Regions from separate parts of the Homo sapiens genome. Here region 2 is linked to region 1. The links come from fine-mapping of genetic effects on gene expression. Tissue or cell type: cerebellum. Region 1 holds a variant in brackets; the other region holds the start of a gene. All regions are shown on one strand. Distances are from middle to middle.

Region 1 (10,258 bases):
ATTTTCTAGAGAGAAGCCTTCTCAATATGAAAGATTAGAGCCAGAGGGGAGAATGCAGACACCTGGATAGTCCAATAGAGCAGTGCTCTTCCTTTCCAGCTACTCTGTCCAGGGTCATTACAATCTCTGCTTCTCTGATATCCTTGCACAAATATAAATGTAGATAGACAGCTTGACACATACACATACTCCACACACACGTACATTTATATACATAGATGTGTATAAATGTATGAATGTGTTTATCTAATTATTAACTAATATTATCTTTACCCTCAAGGAATTTACTATCTTGAACAACTGGGATTAAAATGTACAACTAATTTAAGTGCTCTAAGAACCTGGGTATTCCCAAATAACAGATACTTACATGGATTATCCAAATGTTTCATGATAGCTATCATTACTGAGTGTATACCATGCACCAAAACCAATCTCAATGCTTTACACATATTGACTCAGTTAATTTAATCCTCCCAATAAAGTTATGAGGTAGGTCCTATTATTACGCTCAGTTTATAGAGAAGGACACTAAATCACACAGTGATTAAGGGATTTGCTCAAGACCATATAACCAGCAAGTGTCAGAGTTAGGTTTCACACAGGCAGCCAGCTCCAGAGCCCAGTGACTTAACCCATCCATTGGGCTACCTCTATGCAGGTTTCCCAGCACACCTGTCCCCTCCAGGTCTTCCTGAGCAGCTCAGCACATGATGAGTGGGCTGTCATGAGCTTCACCAGCACCTACCAGACTCTGCTTGTTACTGTCTAAGGCCACTGTTGTAGGCTGTTACCTTGACATAGCCTCTGAGATGGAGATTTGCATGCAGGAGATTAACCAAGGAGAACTCCCAAGAACATCTATTAAGGAGTGGAGGAATCAGGAAGGACCAGCATCCATTCAGAGGAGAGGCCTGAACCATGATGCTGTTGCAATGGAGGCCTTAGCAGATCCCCTGGGGAGCTCTAGATCTGGAATGGCCCATCCTGAATTGAGGCAAGGGTGCAGGGTGTTTGTACCCTCATCTCTAGGAGTCACTGGATGCTGGCTGCCCTAGGAGAGCAAGGCAGCTGCCTTTGACTGAGAGCAATTTCTGAGGAAGGAGTTAGTGGTGAGTCATCAGGAGGCAACTCTTCCAGCAGTGAAGGGAATAAGAACTTCAGCCCTAGTCTGGGCAACATAGCAAGGCCCCCATCTCTACAAAAAGAAAAATAGAAAAAATTAGCCGGGCATTATGGTGTGTGTCTGTGGTCCCAGCTACTCAGGAGGCTGAGGTGAGAGGATCCCTTGAGCCCGAGAGTTCGAGGCTGCAGTGATCTATGATTGCACCACTGTACTCCAGCCTGGGTGACAGAGTGAGATTCTGTCTATAAATAAAAAAATTAAATTAAAAAAGAACCCTAGCCATAAAGAGGGCATCTGGGCAATGCACCATATATCTACTGTAGACCCGCAAAGTCAGGATGAAATGAGAGGCATGGAAGAGAGTATTTTAAGAAAGGAGTCCCTACTTTGTTTCTCTGCAATGTTTCTCTGCCTTGGAAGGAATGAAAGGAACTGCTCACCTGTTGCCTCCCCTTCCACATCCCACTTCTTTTCATTCTATGGCTGGATTACTAAGGCTCTTGCAAAAATTTGCACGGGTAGCTCAGCTGGGTGGATTCAGATTGGTCAGTCCCTCAGTGATGATATGACTGATGAGCAATTGCTCTCTCTCTCTCCCTCCCTCAAAGAACATTTTTTTTTTTTTGCTCACTCTCTCAGATATTAATATGTCCCTTGGAATGGAAGCTGACTCTTGATATAAAAGCCATAGCTCAGAGAAGCTCTATATTATACCTGAAATGGTGAAATGAGAAAGCAATAAAAACATGCTTCTATAGGCCTCCTCTTACTCAACAGCATAGACTTATCGCATCATTCTCTCTCTGTCTGCCTGTCTCTCCCTCTTCCTCTCTCTCCTCCACCCCCTTGCCATGTTTGCATGTGTGTGTGTTTTGGGAGAAACATGAAGATGTGTTATATTTATAGCAACACTGATCATGTATTAAAAGTCTCCTACACACCAGACACTTTATGCATATTATTGCTAAACATCCTGATACCCTCCATGGTAGGTATTATTCACCCTGTTTTATAGATGAGGAAATTGTTGTTCAAAGAGTTTCAGTGAATTGCTCATGACCCACAGCCAGTAAATGATAGAACAAGAACATTTAAGCACTCTTTTCACATCCCAAATCCATATAGACTTTGTGAAAATATTTAAAAAGGGGTTTGAAGCTCCTTGAGTTTCATTTGGGGAGTTTTGGGGCAGATGTTAGCCCTGAAAGTCAGGAAAATGAATTTACGTGTGGATAAATAGGACTTTCCTCTGCCCTGCTCGCATTCTCCTGCAGTCCACCTTGTGTATCCTGTGTGGGATGGCAGGCACTCATTGTTTACACACCCACAGTAACACACATGGTCTTTATTTAATGAGAAAACTTTAATAACTGGTTTTTGCCTTGCTAGGAACAGCCTCTAATCTTCCTGGTAGAAAGTGGTAAATTTTCCTCTCACAGCTGGTCTGGGCTTCAATCAAAATACAATAGTTAACTTTTCATCTGTTTGAAGATCTGGAATAAGAACATGCGATGTACAATTGCATAATGTCATGGTCCAAACTGAAATACATTTGCCTTTAAATGTTCTTTATAGGATTTTTCCACCACACCTAAAGTGAAAGCTGGTGAACTTAAAGCTGGTAATCCAAAGATTTAAGACACTTTCATGCTGCTATTTTAATAGAGCCTTCTAAAGGGAATGCCATTACCTAAAGGATTGGTCCTCATTGTGAAAAGGTTTGGCTTTGATGCTTTTGCCTTAGAGAAGGACCCTAATCTTTGCCACCAGCTCCCAGGTTGGGAGCAAAAACAAAGCAGGGGCAAGGGCAGTAAGTCCTTATCTTGGAGGAAGAATGGATAAAAATGTGTACTCTCTTGCCAGGTGTGGTGGCTCACACCTGTAATCCCAGCACTTTGGGAGGCTGAGGCAGGCGGATCATGAGGTCAGGAGATGGAGACCATCCTGGCTAACACAGTGAAACCCTGTCTCTACTAAAAATACAAAAAAATTAGCTGGGTGTGGTGGCAGGCACCTGTAGTCCCAGCTACTCAGGAGGCTGAGGCAGGAGAATCGCTTGAACCTGGGAGGCGGAGCTTGCAGTGAGCCGAGATCGCACCACTGCACTCCAGCCTGGGTGACAAGGCAAAACTCCATCTCAAAAAAAAAAAAAAAAAGAAAAGAAAAGACTTGTGGAGAGAGGAACTGAGTTATGGGAAAAGACTGAAGAAGGGCCAGTTAACTGAAGGCTGAGAAATGTTAAGATCTGAATTGGAGGGAAAAGGGAGAAATAGAAATGTTTTTACTGTAGTCAGATTTTTTTTTGGTTTGTTTGTTTTGTTTTTTGTTTGTTTTTTTTTTACCTCAGTGGTACACAGATGGTTAAATATTGTCCTTGAGTAACTTAAATGACTAAACAGCCAGTGTAGCTTTCTGAACAGTGACCACAGGAAGATTTGGTTATGACATTGGTAAAATATTATAAGAAAACTCTTAGTGACAACATAATACATTCATGGATATAGCATAGCAGGACAAAAACATAGTAAGACACACTTACTGAGCAAAGGAAGCCACAGGCACTTCCCACTGTATCAAGAGGAACCCAAAAACGTACACATCACACAGAGCAATTTCATTCAGCATAAGAGCCATAGGCATTGGCAGACAACTTGGGATATGAAGACAAAGGGCTGTGAAACATTTATCTCACATAAAGTTGTTATTCTGGTAACATTCTTATGAAGAAAGGTTGATGTTGTATAATAAAACTCCAGGGTCACTGACTGTTGTACAGAGTTCAGCTGACAGTCTCCAAGCATGCTATAAACACGTGGTGTTTTTTGTTTTGTTTTGTTTTGTTTTTTTGCTTTTGTTTTTTGTTTTTGAGATGGAGTCTCTCTCTGTCACCCAGGTTGGAGGGCAGTGGCACAATCTTGACTCACTGCAACTTCCGCCTCCCACGTACAAGCAATTCTCCTGTCTCGGCCTCCTGAGTAGCTGGGACTACAAGTGTACCCCACCACACCTGGCTAATTTTTGTATTTTTAGTAGAGATACGGTTTCACCACGTTGGCCAGGCTGGTCTCGAACTCTGACCTCAAGTGTTCCACCTGCTTTGGCCTCCCAAAATGCTGGGATTACAGGCATGAGCCACTGCACCCTGCCTAATATGTAGTGGTTTTGAAAGGGAGAACCTCCAGAACAAAGAGGCTGACTGTCTTACTTAAGGACACACAACAGAATTAGTCCAGCCAGGCTACAGTCCTTAGTATCTCCTAAATGTAAGGTTTATTTTATTTATTTATTTTTAAGAGATAGGGTCTCTCATACCCAAAGAAACTGCAGGTAAAAAGACCAAAAAAAAAAAAAAAAAAGAGAGAGAGAGAGAAAGACAAGTTCTCACTCCGTTGCCCAGGCTGGAGTGTAGTGGCACCAGTAGCTGGGACTACAGGTGTGTGCCACCATACCTTGAAAAAAATTTTAAATTTTTCTGTAGAGATGGGGTCTCACTATGTTGCCCAGGCTGGTCTTGAACTCCTGTCCTCAAGCGATCTGCCTGCCTTGGCTTCCCAAAGTGCAGGGATTAGAGGCATGGGCCACTGCATCTGGCAAGCTTTTTATTATTCTTTCTGGTTCATTGTGCATGATTTTCCTCTGGGCACGAGAAGAAATGGTTTAACTCTTCCCGCCATTCTTCTCCTTCCTTTCAGGTTCAACTCAATTGTCACCTTTTTTCTCAATCACTACATCCCACCTCCCACCTTTGTCATCTTTGATAGCCCATAGTGCTTATTGCCTATACATTTTAGTAAATGAAAAAAATCATAGATTACCATGAACTTCATTATGATCTTTAAAAAGCATACCTTTTCTTAAACCAGGTGTGGTGGCTCACGCCTGTAATCCCAGCAGTTTGGGAAGCTGAGGCAGATGGATCACTTGAGGCCAGGAGTTCGAGACCAGCCTGGCCAACATGGCAAAATCGTATCTCCACTGAAAATACAAAAATTAGCTAGGCATGGTGGCAGGTGCCTGTATTCCCAGCTACTCAGGAGGCTGAGGCAGGAGAGTCGCTTGAACCTGTGAGGCAGAGGTTGTAGTGAGCCGAGATTGAGCCACTGCACTCAGCCTGGGCAACAGAGCGATACTTTGTCTCAAAAAACAAACAACAACAACAAAAAAGTCATTTTCTTAATAGAAGAAATAAGGATTTATTTGTACTCTAAAACTATTCTTATACTTTTTTTGTTTTTACCCAAACTTGTAACATAATGCCAAACTCATGACAACAGTCAGCAAATACTTGGTAATCAATGAGTGAACTAAGTTGTGTGACAATTAGGAATCACCAAATTATTAGTAACAATTACCTGATAAGAATGACTTTAAAAACATAGAGGTTATTTTATTTCACATTAAAAAAATAGTCTGAAAGCAGGAAGCTGGGGACTATGTAGTAATTATGCAACATCGTCCATGTCCCCAGGCTGCATCTAGGTTTTTGCTCCACTATTCTCAGAAGGCAGGGACCTACGTAAGGTTTCCTTTTGGTTGTAAAATTGCTGCTGAAGCTCCAGTCATTATACCTCAGCTAAAGACGTGAAGGGGGAAGAAAGGGTAAAGGGCAAGAAGAGCACAGATGAGTCAGCTCCCTTTAAGGAGCTTTCAGGAAAAGCTACCCACTTGACCACTGCATACTTCTCATTGGTCACCTTTTTTGTAGGGAGTCTGATCAATGTAATCTTTAGAGAGCATATTGTCAAACTAAAGAAGATCGGATTTGATTAGTGAGGAAGAAGAAATAAGAATATAGGATTGGCATTGCCACTCTCTGCCATAAGTAGTAGTTAATGTTGCCTTCTAATGGGGTTCTCTTGCTATACCCACAAGATATTCTCCCAATATAACGAGTCTCCCAATATAATGCTTCCAAATCTATGATTTGGAATTGAGACAAGGAAATATGAAAAGGGGTTATATCAGCCATCCTAGATAGGATTGATGAGTCAAGGATCTGGAGATGTCCAGGTAGGAGAAATCAGGCACTCTAGGACTAAGTGAGACTGTGAGCTGGAGT[T/C]GCAGTCCTCTGGAGATTAAGAAACTAGAGCTGTTGATGTTGTTAGAAGACAAGTATTGTGGTAGAGGCATTAAACAATGAGAGAAATTGGCAGCTATGATCTGAAGGTGAAATATGGAATTTAAAATTCCAGAGGCTTATCTGTTCCAGAGAGTGGCAAGATTTAGGGCTCTTGAAGTTCAGCAGAGCTGAAGGTCATTAGACTGGAAAGATCTATAAGCTTCCATAGCACAGAATTATATCTTGAATGTACTTTACGTATTTCCTAGCAGTGCCAAGCACAGATGGATTTTTTTTGTTGTTGTTGTACTAACACTATAACTACATTTTGGAAAATAAAGGGGGAGAATTACTCACATTCCCACCACCTACACAACTCATGTTCTCAATTGGTTGTGTTGCCTTCCACATGATGTACATAGCTGTAACCACAGTTTATATGTGAATATCTATCCTTTCAATTGAACATTGTAAGTATTTTTTCAAAAGCAATCACCCATACCTTTTATGATTAATCGATGGGTCTTTAAGTGTTTCAAATAACATTTTTGAAATTCTCTACATCACAGATCAAGATCATGTTCTTATCAACTCTTATTAATACAGAGCTCACCATCAAAAACAGGGGTTCAAGATTCCTAAGTGTGCCAGGCATGGTGGCTCATGCCTGTAATCCCAGAACTTCAGGAGGTTGAAGCAGGTGGATCACTTAAGGTCAGGAGTTCAAAACCAGCCTGGCCAACATGGCAAACCCTGTCTCTACTAATAATACAAAAATTAGCCAGGCATGGTGGTGCACACCTGTAATCCCAGCTATTCAGGAGGCTGAGGCAGGAGAATTGCATAAACAGGAGGCAGAAGTTGCAGTGAGTCGAGATGGTGCCACTGTACTCCATCCTGGGTGACAGAGTGAGTGAGTGAGACTGTGTCTTATAAAAAAAAAAGAAAGAAAGAAAGAAAAAGAAAAGAAAAGAAAGAGAAGAAAAAGATTCCTAAGTGTGTGTTTTGGTTTTTGCAAATTTGTTGCATCTTTAATTCTAATTTGAACAATGAGAATTTTTCTTTGTATGTTTTTGAATTCATTCTTGCTAGAGAAGACTGCAGAGGTTTAGCAATAGGATACAATGAATGATTGTTCCACTAAATCAGCCAGTCTTTTAGGAAACTTAAATCTTTCCAACCCAGAAAAAGACAAGAGATGTTCTTTGACCCCAGCTAGAGAAATGAGAACTGAACGAAATTTTAGAACTGTACTATCTTGTGGCTGGGGTAAGGATATACTGAGTATCTTCTTAGCACTCCTCTAAGGGGAAGCCCCTGGTCCTGGAGGAAGACAGATTCAGTGTCATCTTTGCACTTACCAGCTACAGACCTTGATTTGTACTCCAAACAACTTTATAATATTCCTAACTTCAAAGGATAGAGGAATGCAGTTAGTAAAAAAGATAAGAGCAACATATGCAACAACAAGATAAAAGAAGTCAGAAGACCATGCATCTCTAACAGTGAGACAAAAATGAGTGATGTCCCTATTTATTCCTGATAATTTGGTTGAAGTTTCACAGTGTTCTTCTTTAGTTTCACAAAAATGAGGATCGTCATCAGTAATCTATAGTATTCCAAAATTTTTATTTAAAATACTTATCAAAAGGGCTGGGTGCAGTGGCTCACACCTGTAATCCCACCACTTTGGGAGGCCCAGGTGGGTGGATCAGTTGAGGTCAGGAGATCGAGACCAGCCTGGCCAAACTGGTAAGACCCCGTCTCTACTAAAAATACAAAAGTTAGCTGGATGTGGTGGTGGGTACCTGTAATTCCAGTTACTTGGGAGGCTAAGGCAGGAAAATCCCTTGAACCCGGAGGCAGAGGTTGCAGTGAGCTGAGATCAGGCCACTGCACTCCAGCCTGGGTGATGGAGTGAGACTCTGTCTCAAAAACAAACAACTCCCCCCCAATAAAAACCCCACTTATCCAGAACCCAACAATTAATCTATATTGTAATTATCTATGGGTTCTTCTTGACCACTACACAGAAAAAATCAATCCATTGAAATCAAGGCATTTCAGTAGAGAGAGTTTAATTGAAATGAGGCCATCCCATACAGGAAAACTGGAGTTACCACACAAATCAGTCTCCCTGAAGGCTCAGAAGTTAGGGGTGTTTATGGGTGATTTTGTGAGCAGGGGGCTAGGGAATGGGTGCTACTGATTGGTAGGGGCTGATATCACAGGGGTGTGGAAAAATGGTCCTCATGCACTGAGTCTGCCTCTGGATGGGGCCACAGGATCGATTGAGTCATGAGTCATAAATCTGGGTGAAGGCAGTCTGAAAAACGTCTTGCAAAAAACCAATTTTAGGTTCTACAATAGTGATGTTATTTATAGGAACAATTGGGGAAGTCACAAATCTTGTGACCTCTGGCAACAGGACTCCTGAGCAGTAAGGGATTACACAAACTACATCTACATTTTAGCAGAGTTCAAGCCCCTTGGATAATTTTATCCTTGTGGCCTTTCATTAGTTTTACAAAAATGGTTTAGTTTTGGGAAGGGCTATCATAACCCTTGGTTTAAGGTTAAACTATAAAATAAATTCCTCTTAAAGTTAGCTTGGACCACACCCAGGAATGACCAAGAATAGTGTGAAGGTCAGAAGCAAGATGGAGTCCACTATGTCAAGTTTCTTTTACTGTACGATTTTGCAAAGGCAGGTTCGTTATAACGTGGAAAATGCTTACATTATAATGTTAATTTAAAATAAAATAATATGCCGGGCATGGTGGCTCATGCATGTAATTCCAGCACTTTGGGAGGCTGAGGTGGGTGGATCAACTGAGGTTGGGAGTTCGAGACCAGCCTGACCAACATGGAGAAACCTGTCTCTGCTAAAAATACAAAATTAGCCGGGCATGGTGGCACATGCCTGTAATCCCAGCTATTCAGGAGGCTGAGACAGGAGAATTGCTTGAACCTGGGAGGTGGACGTTGCAGTGGGCCGAGATACTGCCATTGCACTCCAGCCTGGGCAACAAGAGTGAGACTCTGTCCCAAAAAAAATAAAATAAGATAAAAGAATAGATGATCATATATAAGTTATGGATGCAGCTATATGCATCATGTGGAAGGAGATACATCAATTGAGAGCATGAGTTGTGTAGGTGGTGGGAATGTGAATAGTCCTCCCCCTCTATTTTCCAAAATGTAGTCATATTGTTTGTACGACAAAAAGAAAATCCATCTGTGCTTGGCACTGCTAGGAAATATGTAATGCACATTCAAGATATGATTCTGTGCTATGGGAGCTTACAGAGCTTTCCTACTCTAATGGCCTTCAGCTCTGCTACACTTAGAAAGCCAGGCCCTAAACCTTGTCACTGTCTGGAACAGCTAAGCCTCTGGAATCTTAAATTCCAGATTTCATCCTCTGACCACACCTGCCTATCTTTCCAGTTCTTTCATGTCTTTACCACAATACTTGCTTTTGAACACCATCAAGAGCTCCAGCTCCTTCACTTATCCCTAGAACACCTGATTTCTTCAGCATCCTTCCTTACACAATCTAAATTCAACTGCTATCTCACTAGCACCCTCAAATGTCTTGACACGGTTTCCTCCTGACTTACATGTACAGCAAACTCCCTACCATGGTTCAATTCACGCATCCTTATGGGTCACCTAAATTGCTATATAAACTCATACAAATATATGGATAGACTCTCTACAAAATTGTAAGCTTTCCGTTGCAGGCCAGGCTCAGTGCTACTCAAGAATCTTCCTACTCTTCCCTAGCTCTCTCCCTGTCATCTCCCACATTGGCTGGTTGACACACTTTCTACTTCTGTATCCCTTAAACATGTATTCTCCAGGGTTCTGTTGTCAGTCCCTTCTCTCTCTGTTCATTCTGCTTTAACTGCTATCAGTTGAGTATCTACCTCCAAATCCCACCCAGCCCCTGGCCCCACCCATGCATACTGCACTGGCTACTAGGGTATTTTTATTCTGGGATGTCACACAGATATCTCAGGACTAAACTCATTATATTTTAACCCAAAGACTTTCTTGTTAAAGGTCCT
Region 2 (10,258 bases), 58 kb before region 1:
GACCAGATAAACTACTCACTCCTCCTCTTCGAGAGCACCCAACAGGGGCTCAAAAATGCTGCTTTCATCCTCCTTGCTCTCCCAACCCAAGAGCACCCAGGCTACGGAAACCTCAGGGTCCAGACCACTCAAAGGATCACAGTTTGGGAACCCCCGAGGTGGACTGCAGAGGAGTACGTTCTGAAGGACTTGAATCAGCTCCAAAGTGCCCCCACACACTCAGTGATCTATAAGATACAAAACTAGAAAGAACTAGAACTACACTCTAAGGGTGTGAGGAAATGATTTTTAAGGAATACTAAAGTCCTAAAAAACAAGTCAAGAGAAAAATGCAGAATTATGTAAGAAGTAGAGATTACAAACATCAATAACAGACATAAGTACTTCAGAGTTAGAGGACATCAAGCTAATATTTCGTAAAGAGCAACCACATGACAAAAATACTCAAAGCTGTAAGCCTTCCTTGGCCTTGGAAGGTCATGAGACTTTTTTTTTTTTTTTTTTTTTTGGCTAAAACAAGGAATGCTTTAGTGAGAGAGAAGAAAAGAACTTCCAGACTTCTAGGTGGCTCCCACTTTTTTTAAAAAAAACTCCTCCTCTCTCTTAAGTGTATGGTCCAGTGATGTCTGGTTACCATGCAAGTCACATCAACAGCTGGACAGCACTGAGCATCCTTAGAACTCTAGGTCTTGTTTTTCTACTAAAGTTTTCCCAATCTTCCTTTGATGTCTGGCACCACCAGCCGACAGCAGCTGACTAACGTGTTATCATGTGACGCTCTGTAAAATAGTAAGGCACAGTAAGATTTTTTTTCCTTTCAGTAAGCTTATGCTGATAAAAAAATAATTATTTTAATGATGTATTTAGAAAAAGGATTATGTACAACAGAAAGTCACAAGGGTAACACTAATTAAAAGGTGTCTCAATTTATTACTACGAATATTTCACAGAACCTACATGCATTTTTACCTGATATTTGCAAAGGCCGTTTCATATTATACATATAACCAGCAAAGAAGGAATATAGAAAAGTGTGGGTCTGGCTTTTCTATCATGAAAAGCAAATTTAACAGTGATAAAGAAGGCAATCAAGATACAAATACAGAAGCCAGGCATGGTGGCACACACCTGTAGTCCCAGCTACTCAGGAGGCTGAGGCAGGAGGATCACTTGAGGCCAGGAGTTTAAGACCAACTGGGCAACATAGTAAGACTCCATTTCAAAAAAAAAAGATAAAGATACAAACTGATATTACGATCTTACTCATTATATCAACATATTTATTGAGCACCTACTACATATACTGGGCACTGGTGATTAAACCAGGTATTATCAACTTCATATTAACCTAAAGGGCAAGAAAAGGACCCTAAGTGATTAAATAATATATAAATTGTGGTAAATATTCAGAAGCAAAAGTGATTACGCTATGAGGGAGAAAATAAAGGACATTTAATTCGCATGACGATAAGGGTGGGCTTGTCAGAGAAGACCTTTATGAGAAAGGACATTTGAGCTAGCACCCAAGGATGATAAGTTACTCAAGGAGATGATCCTAAAATAGGGAGACCAACAGCATGAGCCACAGGCCTGAGGCTAGTCTGCTGGAGAACTGGCCAAGATGACAGCAAGAGATGCAAGTGGATGTAGAGATCAAATCATGCAGGATCCTGAAGTAATGTCAAGGATTTGGTATCTTATCCCAAAAATAAATAAATGTGTTTCCTGAGAGCCCTGACAACTTTAAGACGGCAAATACTTTTTCTTTTTTTTTTCAGGCTGCTGGTAGTAAAACAGACTGCAAGGGGTGCAGAGTGTGTGCAGGAGGCACCGCACCAAGGAAAAAGATAATACAGTACAGTGGCTTGCATTAGGATGGCAGAATAGTGGGGACTGAAAATCAGACCGGTTTGAAAGAGATTTTGCAATAAAAATGGACAGCAGGACTTTATGATGGACTGGTTTGCTAGGGCTGATAGAAGAAAAGAGAGAGTGGAGTGAGCTACTCCTTGGATGGATGAGATGAAAAATGGAGGGGGAACAGTTTGAAAGTTTGAGTGACCAAGAGCTCAATTCTGAAGGAGTTTGAGATGTTGTCATTTATTGGCTGAAATGTGCCAGGCACATCTAATATATATTAGATGTTCTACTCACCATAGCATCCCTTTAAGTAGTGGTATCCCCATTTTCCAGAAATGCAACTGTAGATCACAGAGGCTGAAGTGGCATGGCCGAGCTCACTCACCTCGGGAGTGACAAAGTCACACGTGCAACCCAAGTCTGGCTGGCAGTGGGGTAAACATTCTTTCCACTATACAGAATACTTGGAAACTCTCTCTACACTTTGAATTTTTAAGTCTATTTAGGGTTAGAGCAAGTTAGCATCAAAGAAGAGTAAATAAACGTTATATTATTTTGTAATCCAAATCTTTAATTTATGATGCATGTTTTTCTATCCAACTCCCATTCCCACTCCACTTTTACTTGCAAAGAGTTTTGTAATGTTTTGAACACTAGCAAGATATCTAAGATCTTAATGTTTTATAATAAAGGAGCAAAGCCATTATGCCAGGAATTAACCATAAGAAAAAGACAACAATATCCCACGGCAAACAATATTTTTACTTCCAAGTCATTATATACATCAACATAAAACAGATCAATTAATGAGTCAGAAACCCTGAAGAACTAATCATTTCTCAAAACACAAGGCAGTCAGGTCAAAAACTGACGTAAGTCACCACGTATAGAAGCCTACAAGAGCCAAACACTGAAGATTCAGGTTAAAAGGTTGCAACCTTAAAAAAATAAATAAAAGGCAAAACAAATTATACAACCATGTCGAATTTTAAATCTGTAATTACCAAATATCTGAACCAAATGCCAAATTCAGGAAACATGCATCCTATAAACAACTTAAACACTCTCTGTTCTTTGTAACTGTTTTTTCCAGAAGCACACTGACACTTCTGCAAAGTGAAGTGCCTTTCCTGCCTGCACAGCCCCATGATTTGCTCCCTCTCAGGGCCCTCTAATGCACCCCTAAGCTACTAAAGCCCAGACATAAGATTTGATCAATAAACCTAGAAAGAACTCAGTGCATTACTGCCAATTGTGTCCATCACAGAAAGTACCACCTGGAGACTCTTGAGGAAAAAAATGAGGAAGGGGGAGATTTTTGAAAGGTTTTATCATCTGTATTACAAATTATATTTTGTTGTACTTGATCCTTGAATAGAATAATCATCAAACTATGTTCAGTCTTCTTCAAGTGGGGGATGGTCATGTGTAATTTTATGGTTTGGGGAGTGTGCCTCATAGAGATAAATAAAATTAAAAGTACCATTAGTATGCCCGCTAAAAGATAAAACTCACACAAACCACTTCCCCAAATGATAGTGCTGTCTCCTGCGTCCTGATTTTTGCGTCCACCCTGCACCTCTCCCTGCAGAAAGCTGGCTGGCATTCACTACCGCCTCACTCTGGCAAAGGACAGGATGTCGAAAACCCATTAAGAAAGCTTCTCATTTTCTGTTCCTTCATAACATGATGGCAACTCCTGGCAACTCCAAGATGAAAGGCAAAAAAGAAAATAAAAACTACCTGGGGCCCCCTACCAGAATGAGTGGTTAATCTAATGGAGAGAAAAGCAGAGATTTATACATATTTTAAAATGCTTCCTGGGGACAAAGCAGATCTAATGAATTGCTGAGCCACAATCTACTGGAAAATCCATAAATGTTCGTCCCTGCTGTCACAGGGCTAGAGGATTTTTTTTTTTAATGAAATGCTTTAATGCTAACCTGACAGGGCTAACCTGACAGGTTTAAGTCAGCTATGAGACGTGATTTGCATTCATTTCGCTTCTAAATCCCTAAAGATCAGCAACAATATTGACCCGCAATTATATATCCTACGTTGCACTGTTCAAGATGCCATTTGAGGCTGGGAAAGTAGTGGTTTAGCAACACCAGGCGGCTCTATGATGCTAAAATAACAACGCAACACTGGATTCCGAACCCAAGTACTCATCTTTTAAAACCCAGTGCCGCACCAGGACCCACATTCAAAGCTCGCGTCCCTTCAAGTTGAATCTTCCGGCTTTGTGCGATTTACCCTCTCAAACTTTCTAGTTTGCAAGTCAGAATTACTTTGAACGTCCCCTCTTCTGGACTCCCCTCCCCAAAGGGACTGGCGGCAAAGGAGAATAGAATGCAGATGGTTAATAGTTCAAATGAAATTTAAAAACCTATAAACCAATATTTTTTTAGAGGAGAAAAGCGTTCACCAAACCGCCACCCGGCAAGCGAGCATCCGATTTCCATCCGGAGGAAAAAATATTTTAAAAACCAGACATAAAATTCCCTTTGCAAGAAAAGTGGCCTCTAAACTCCCTTGCCAAGGACACTGGGAGGAAGCAGAAAAGCAAAGACCAAGCTCGTACTTTTCAGTCCGCGGCTTGTGTGCCGCGAGGAGAGGCGCAAAGGGTGACACACCAGGAAAGGTGAACGCAGAGGGAGCGGGAGCCCGCGGCGGGGCAGGGTGGGGGCGGAACGGACGAGGTACCCAAGGTGCGGAGAGAGGGGCAACCGGGCGGAGGGCAGCTCCGAGGCTGCAGGCGGGACGGGCGGGGTCCCCGGCGCAGCCCGGATCGCCGCCGCTAAGTAAAGTTAATACTTACTCAGTTTCGCAACTGCGCCGCCCCCGCAGGCCGCCCAGAGGGGCCGGCCGGGGCGCTGGGGACGCGGCGGCACCCGGAGCTCCGCGGCCGCCCAGCGCCCGTCCCCGCGCCGCACTCCCCGGCACTCCCCGGCGCTCCCCGCGCCGCGCGCCCCGCACCGGCTGGAGGCCCCGGCCCCCCGGCGTTCCCTCTCCGCGCACCTCCCGGCCCGCGCTAGGTGAGTGTGGACGCCACTGGCGGGGGTGCCGCGGTGCGCGAGCGCTCGGCCAGCGGCAGAGACGCCGCGGGAGCCGCCCCCAGCGCCAACGCCGCCGCGGGCGGGAAGGGCGAGGCTCGGCGAGGCTGGGCGAGGAGCTGGGCGGCAGACGCTGAGCGGGGCGCGGCGCGGGGCGCCGGACGAGCGCGGGCGTAGGAGGAGCGCGGGCGTAGGAGTCGGCGACCCGCTCGCTCCCGCGGCCGGTGCCTCTGGGCTGGGGGCCGGGCTGGGGGCCGGGCCGGGCCGGGCCGGGCCGGGCGGCCAGGCGGCTCCGCCCCTTCGCCGGGCAGCGGCTGAGCGCGCGAGAGGAGCGGCGCGGGGGCGCCCCCCTCGGCCGGGCGCTCGGGTTTCAGCCGCCGCTCCTCCGCGCCCCGCCCGCGCCTGGCCCGCTCGCCGGCGCCGGGAGAGACCTCGTAACGGAACTGGGACGCCAGCGCTGCATTGTGGGAGCTTTTAAAGCGGCGGGGAGCTCGGCGCGACCCTCGGGCCCACCGGGCCACGCTCGCCCGGCCCGCGACGCCCCCCCGCTGTCGCCTGGCCCGCGACGCACCGAGGCCTGAGGACCCGAAAGCCGGGCGCGGGGAGATGACCGGTGGCTCGTGACGGTCCCACGGGCAAAATCTTCCATCGCCCGGGGCTGAGACTTGTCAAACTGCCCTCTACGGTCACCCGGAAAGTAGGAGGCTTTTTCTGCAGAGGGGAAAAAAATCAAAAAGAGCCGTTCCATCCCCCCTCCAAGGACTGGGTTTGAATTGCTTTTCATCTGCAGTGGCTGTGATTCAGCGTCCCTCTTAGCAGCAGGCAATGACAGAGGCAGGAGAGGGGAAAAAAAAAAAGAAAGAAAGAAAAAACACAGCAAATGAATCAAACGGACGTGAGTAACAAAAGTTTAGAAAGAGCTGGGCTCGTATTCAGAAAAAACGCCTCATCCCCCCGCCCCGCTGCACTCCCAACCCCTTTAAAAATAGCAGATAATCAAGAAAGGAAACGGGTGCTTTCATATGGAAATACAGATGTGTATGTTGTTTTCAATATTCTACTGTTTTTTTGTGTGTGGCATGCAATTACTCAGGCACTGGGCAAAATTCAGCCTTTGGATTTTGTGGTCACACATACCCCAACTCCGCAACAGCTATTAATTTGCAGGGCGATGGGGTGCGGATAGTGGATGAGATACAAGAAAGCATTCCAATTAAAATGCCCCCCCCCACCCCGCCTTTTAATTTTCCAGACACTTGCTTTTATTTTTCTTTTTTTAAACATCATCAAAACAAGAATATTAAACTTGAAGCAGAATTTGTTACAGCGTATCTGACTCAGGACCTGATTTAAGGTTTGGGGTTTTTTGGCCCTTTGTTTCTTCCTCTTGTTTTTTGACCTTTAGTTACTCCACACCTCATTAGTTCCTTGACCTGCAGGTGGACTGAGAAGAGAGCCATGGTAAGACTCAAATTTGTCAAATCAACATTTGGAGAGGAGAAAGTTCACTGTGATTCAAATGCAAAACCAAAGGGAATATGATTTAAAAGTCAACCTGGAGGGCATGGATCCTCCCTTAACCCTACTTGACTCTTTTCAAAGGAGTTGCCTAGCCTTAAGGTGAATGTTTCCTAACCTCTCATTCCCTTCTCAGCCTTTCACTCCACTGAACAACATCAGCCATTGCTTAATTGCCAAATCTAATGGAAAAATTTAATTCCCATCTTGTGCCCTTTGTGGCATTTGCCAATGTTGACCTCTCCTTCTTAGAACTTTCTGCCTTTTGGCCGGGCGCGGTGGCTCATGCCTATAACCCCAGCACTTTGGGAGGCCAAGGCTGGCAGATTGCCTGAGGTTGGGAGTTCGAGACCAGCCTGACCAACATGGAGAAACCCCGTCTCTACTAAAAATACAAAATTAGCCGGGCATGGTGGCACATGCCTGCAATCCCAGCAACTGGGAGGCTGAGGCAGGAGAATCGCTTGAACCTGGGAGGCAGAGGTTGCAGTGAGCCGAGATCACGCCATTGCACCCCAGCCTGGGCAACAAGAGCGAAACTCCATCTCAAAAAAAAAAAAAAAAAAAAAAAAAAAACTTTCCTCCTTTCTTTGGCTGTGGTAGTGATCCCTCTTTTGTGTACTTCTTGAAGCAGGTAGCAGGCAAGAGTGTGGTTATCGTTGGACCAGGATTCAGGATCTGACTGAGTAGCTGACTCTTAATCCAGTTTGTGTTGATCACCAGGAGGATCTGGACCTCAGTATTACCACATCTAGAGGTGAGCAAGTTGACTGACTCTTGATAACTAACTCTTATATGATGAGCATTTATATCAGGACAGAACTTCCTGATTGGATAACAATACCTACTATTTAGGAAAAACCCTTCCTAAAAATCCAGGTATCCTCACCTCCAGTCTTACTGATGGCTGCCAAAGTCAGTGAATTTGCCTCCATTCAGTGCTGGATAAGTGCAGAAAAATCTTTACCCTACCTAGCCCATTTGGTTAATGCGTTCTTTCTTCAGAGTGTAGTACAATTTGTTTTAAGCTTTTTTTTTTTTTTGGTAGCTATAATCACATCCCTGTTAAGCCTTCCTGAGATCACACCAAATGTCCTTGATGGGAATTGTAAACAACCCTTACTTCTGGTTTCTAATGATATTCCAGGAAAGGAGCCTAACTAGAGTCAGTGAGTATTCATGCACTTCAAACCCTGTGACATAATAAGATTTGATTTTTAAGAAAACAACTTGAGAGGATGGATTCAGAAAAGAGGCAGATCCAAGGGAGAGTCTAAACTGGAGAGCAGTGGCAATGAACAGGAGGAGGCCATATCGAGAGATGAATTGATCATCTTATAGACCTGGAGGTCAGAAATCTAAAATCAAAGTGTGGGCTGTGTTCCTTCTGGAGGATCGAGGGGAGAATCCATTTCCTTGCCCTTTTCAGCCTCTAGATGCCACCTGCATTCCTTGGCTTATAGTCCCTTTCTCTATGTTTAAGGCCAACTGCATAGCATCTTCCCCCATTTCTTTGTAACTTCTGCTTCATGGTGATGGGGACATCTCTCTCTCTGATCGTAGGAATTGATTTAGATGCTTTTCTAGCCATATGTATTATGAACTAAATGCAGTTGAATTACTTATGGGAGGAAATGGCAGGTGACCTCATTACTTGTCAAATCATCGTTAGATAACTGACTTGACTGTTAAGATTGCTGAAGCAGTGATTTATTACCTCAGCTAAATCTGTATCAATCTGGTGACCCGTGTAACTGAAACCAAGATGTTAACACTGTAAGAAAACCTAGCTTATGTTTGCAGCTCCTGAGAATAAATCCCTTTATCTTGAAATACCTGGAAATCCCTTTTTAATGTCCAGTGGAGTCATATTGCCAAGTTTGAGAAATGTGTCTAGACCAGTATTTCCCAAACAGCCCACCAGACAACACCAGCCTGTAAGATGGTGATATTGTTTGGATGTTTTTTCCCTCCAAATTTCGTGTTGAAATGTGACCGCCATGTTGGAGTTGGACCTAGTGGAAGGTATTTGGGTGATGGGGAATCTCTTGTGTGGCTATGTACCTTCCCTGCAGTAATGAGTTCATGAAAGATCTGGATGTTTAAAAGAGTCTGTGATCTTCCTCCTCTCTCTCTTGCTCCTGTTCTTGCCAGGTGATATGCCAACTCCACCTTTGCCTTCCACCATGTTTGGAAGCTCCCTGAGGCCTCACCAGGAGCAGATGCTCGTCCCATGCTTCCTATAAGCCTGCAGAACTGTGAGCCATAATAAACTGTGAATTATAAATTGCCTTTATAGCAATGCAAATGGACCAGTACAGATGGGATGCTGGGAAGACAGTTGTTTCCACCTTCAGTAAAGTCCGTGGAACACAGTTGTGACTATATTCTAGGCCAGCCAAGATGCTTGTACTCAGAAAGGAGTGGTCTCAGGACCATAAGAAAGTGAAAAAATAAAAATAAGAAAATAAAGAAGGGATTGTCAATGAATCAGAATTCATCAAGGTCAAAGTCTTAGGAAATTCCTTCATGAGGAAGTCTAGGGGGGCTATGGAAATGAAATTTTTAAACAAATAGGTATGTGGTGCTGGCAGGAATAAATTATGGACTTATGAATATAACATAAGATTCTTTATTACCTGGTCTCACCCGTCTTTCCACCTCTGCCCCCCTTCTTGCCCGACTCTGTGTATCACCCATAATAAACTACTTACAGCTTCCTAGTGTTAAATTTACCCTAAAGCTGCCTCCTTCAATATTTTAAGTTTAACCTAAAGGTTCTTCATACATAGTGAACTATAACCCAATGATTAAACAGATTGTAACCTACTCTTGTACCAGTCACCAAGTTTCAGCCAATCAGAGGTGGCCAACTGTTCAAACCATGCTCAAATAAGGGAAATGTCATGGTGTAACTAATCCAGCTGTTTCTATACCTTACTTCTGTTTTCTTAGGTCACTTTCCTTTTTTGTCCATAAATTCTCTCCAACCACTCAGCAGCACTGGAGTCACTCCAAAGCTATCCTGGTTCAGGGGTCTGTCTGATTCACAAGTCATTCTTTGTTCAATTGAGCTCTGCTAAATTTAATTTGTCTGAAGTTTTTCTTTTAACAGATGGTGTCAGAAATGGACCCCAAAGTAGAGCTCCCAGTGATCCCCCAGGAGCACTGAGTGACCACAAGGGGTACCTGCTGGGCCCGTCCTCTCGCAGTGTCCACTGCTCTCTTACAGCAACTGGAGATTGTGGCTGCATTCTCTCTCAGATTCTGAAGCTCCATACATTGCCGTTTTCAGCTGTTCAAGCTTGCTTGAGCAAATTTTTGATCTTAGCTGAGTTTGGAAGTCGATAGACATTGGACTGGGTCCAGGATTTGATTGGATCTGATAATTAACTGGCTTGGATCCAGTTAGATGCCTCGGTTATCTGACTGGGTCAGATAGAAACCGCCAGTAAATATTTTAATAACAATACTGCAGGGGTATGAACTCTGGCTTTAAGAAACTCACAAGGAATTTTATGTTCTATACCCTTTGTTTCTTTTTCTTGTGTGCTTCGGTCAGGAAAAATCATTAGTCAAGTTAATCAAGGGGATCTGAGAGCCAAATACAAGATTCAACGTAAAAATGGAATCCTTGGGCTAGGCGTGGTGGCTCAGGCCTGTAATCCCAGGACTTTGGGAGGCTGAGGCAGGCGGATCACCTGACCTTAGGAGTTCGAGACCAGTCTGGCCAACATGGTGAAACCCCGTCTCCACTAAAAATACAAAAATTAGCCAGGCGTGGTGGTGGGCACCTGTAATCCCAGCTACTTTGGAGGCTGAGG

Evidence for each region. PIP is the estimated chance that this variant, and not a neighbour inherited with it, causes the effect.
Region 2: it holds the start of RASSF8-AS1, and the variant in region 1 is fine-mapped to the expression of RASSF8-AS1 in cerebellum (GTEx, PIP 0.99).

The regions. Positions count from the first base shown.
Region 1 is chr12:25,895,465-25,905,722 of GRCh38, reverse strand. No RefSeq gene overlaps it. Among named protein-coding and RNA genes, the nearest start is that of MIR4302, 27 kb to the right of the region's middle. RefSeq lists an enhancer at 6,359-6,528. The variant T/C (reference allele first, on the strand shown) is at 6,186.
Region 2 is chr12:25,953,572-25,963,829 of GRCh38, reverse strand. It overlaps RASSF8-AS1 (RASSF8 antisense RNA 1), which reads left to right and starts at 4,388. Exons shown (of 4, transcript NR_038228.1): 1 at 4,388-4,504; 2 at 7,066-7,191; 3 at 7,483-7,603; 4 at 8,589-9,176. It overlaps RASSF8 (Ras association domain family member 8), which reads right to left and starts at 5,148. Exons shown (of 6, transcript NM_001394098.1): 1 at 4,682-5,148. RefSeq lists silencers at 4,537-4,586, 4,727-4,776, 4,847-4,946, 5,047-5,536.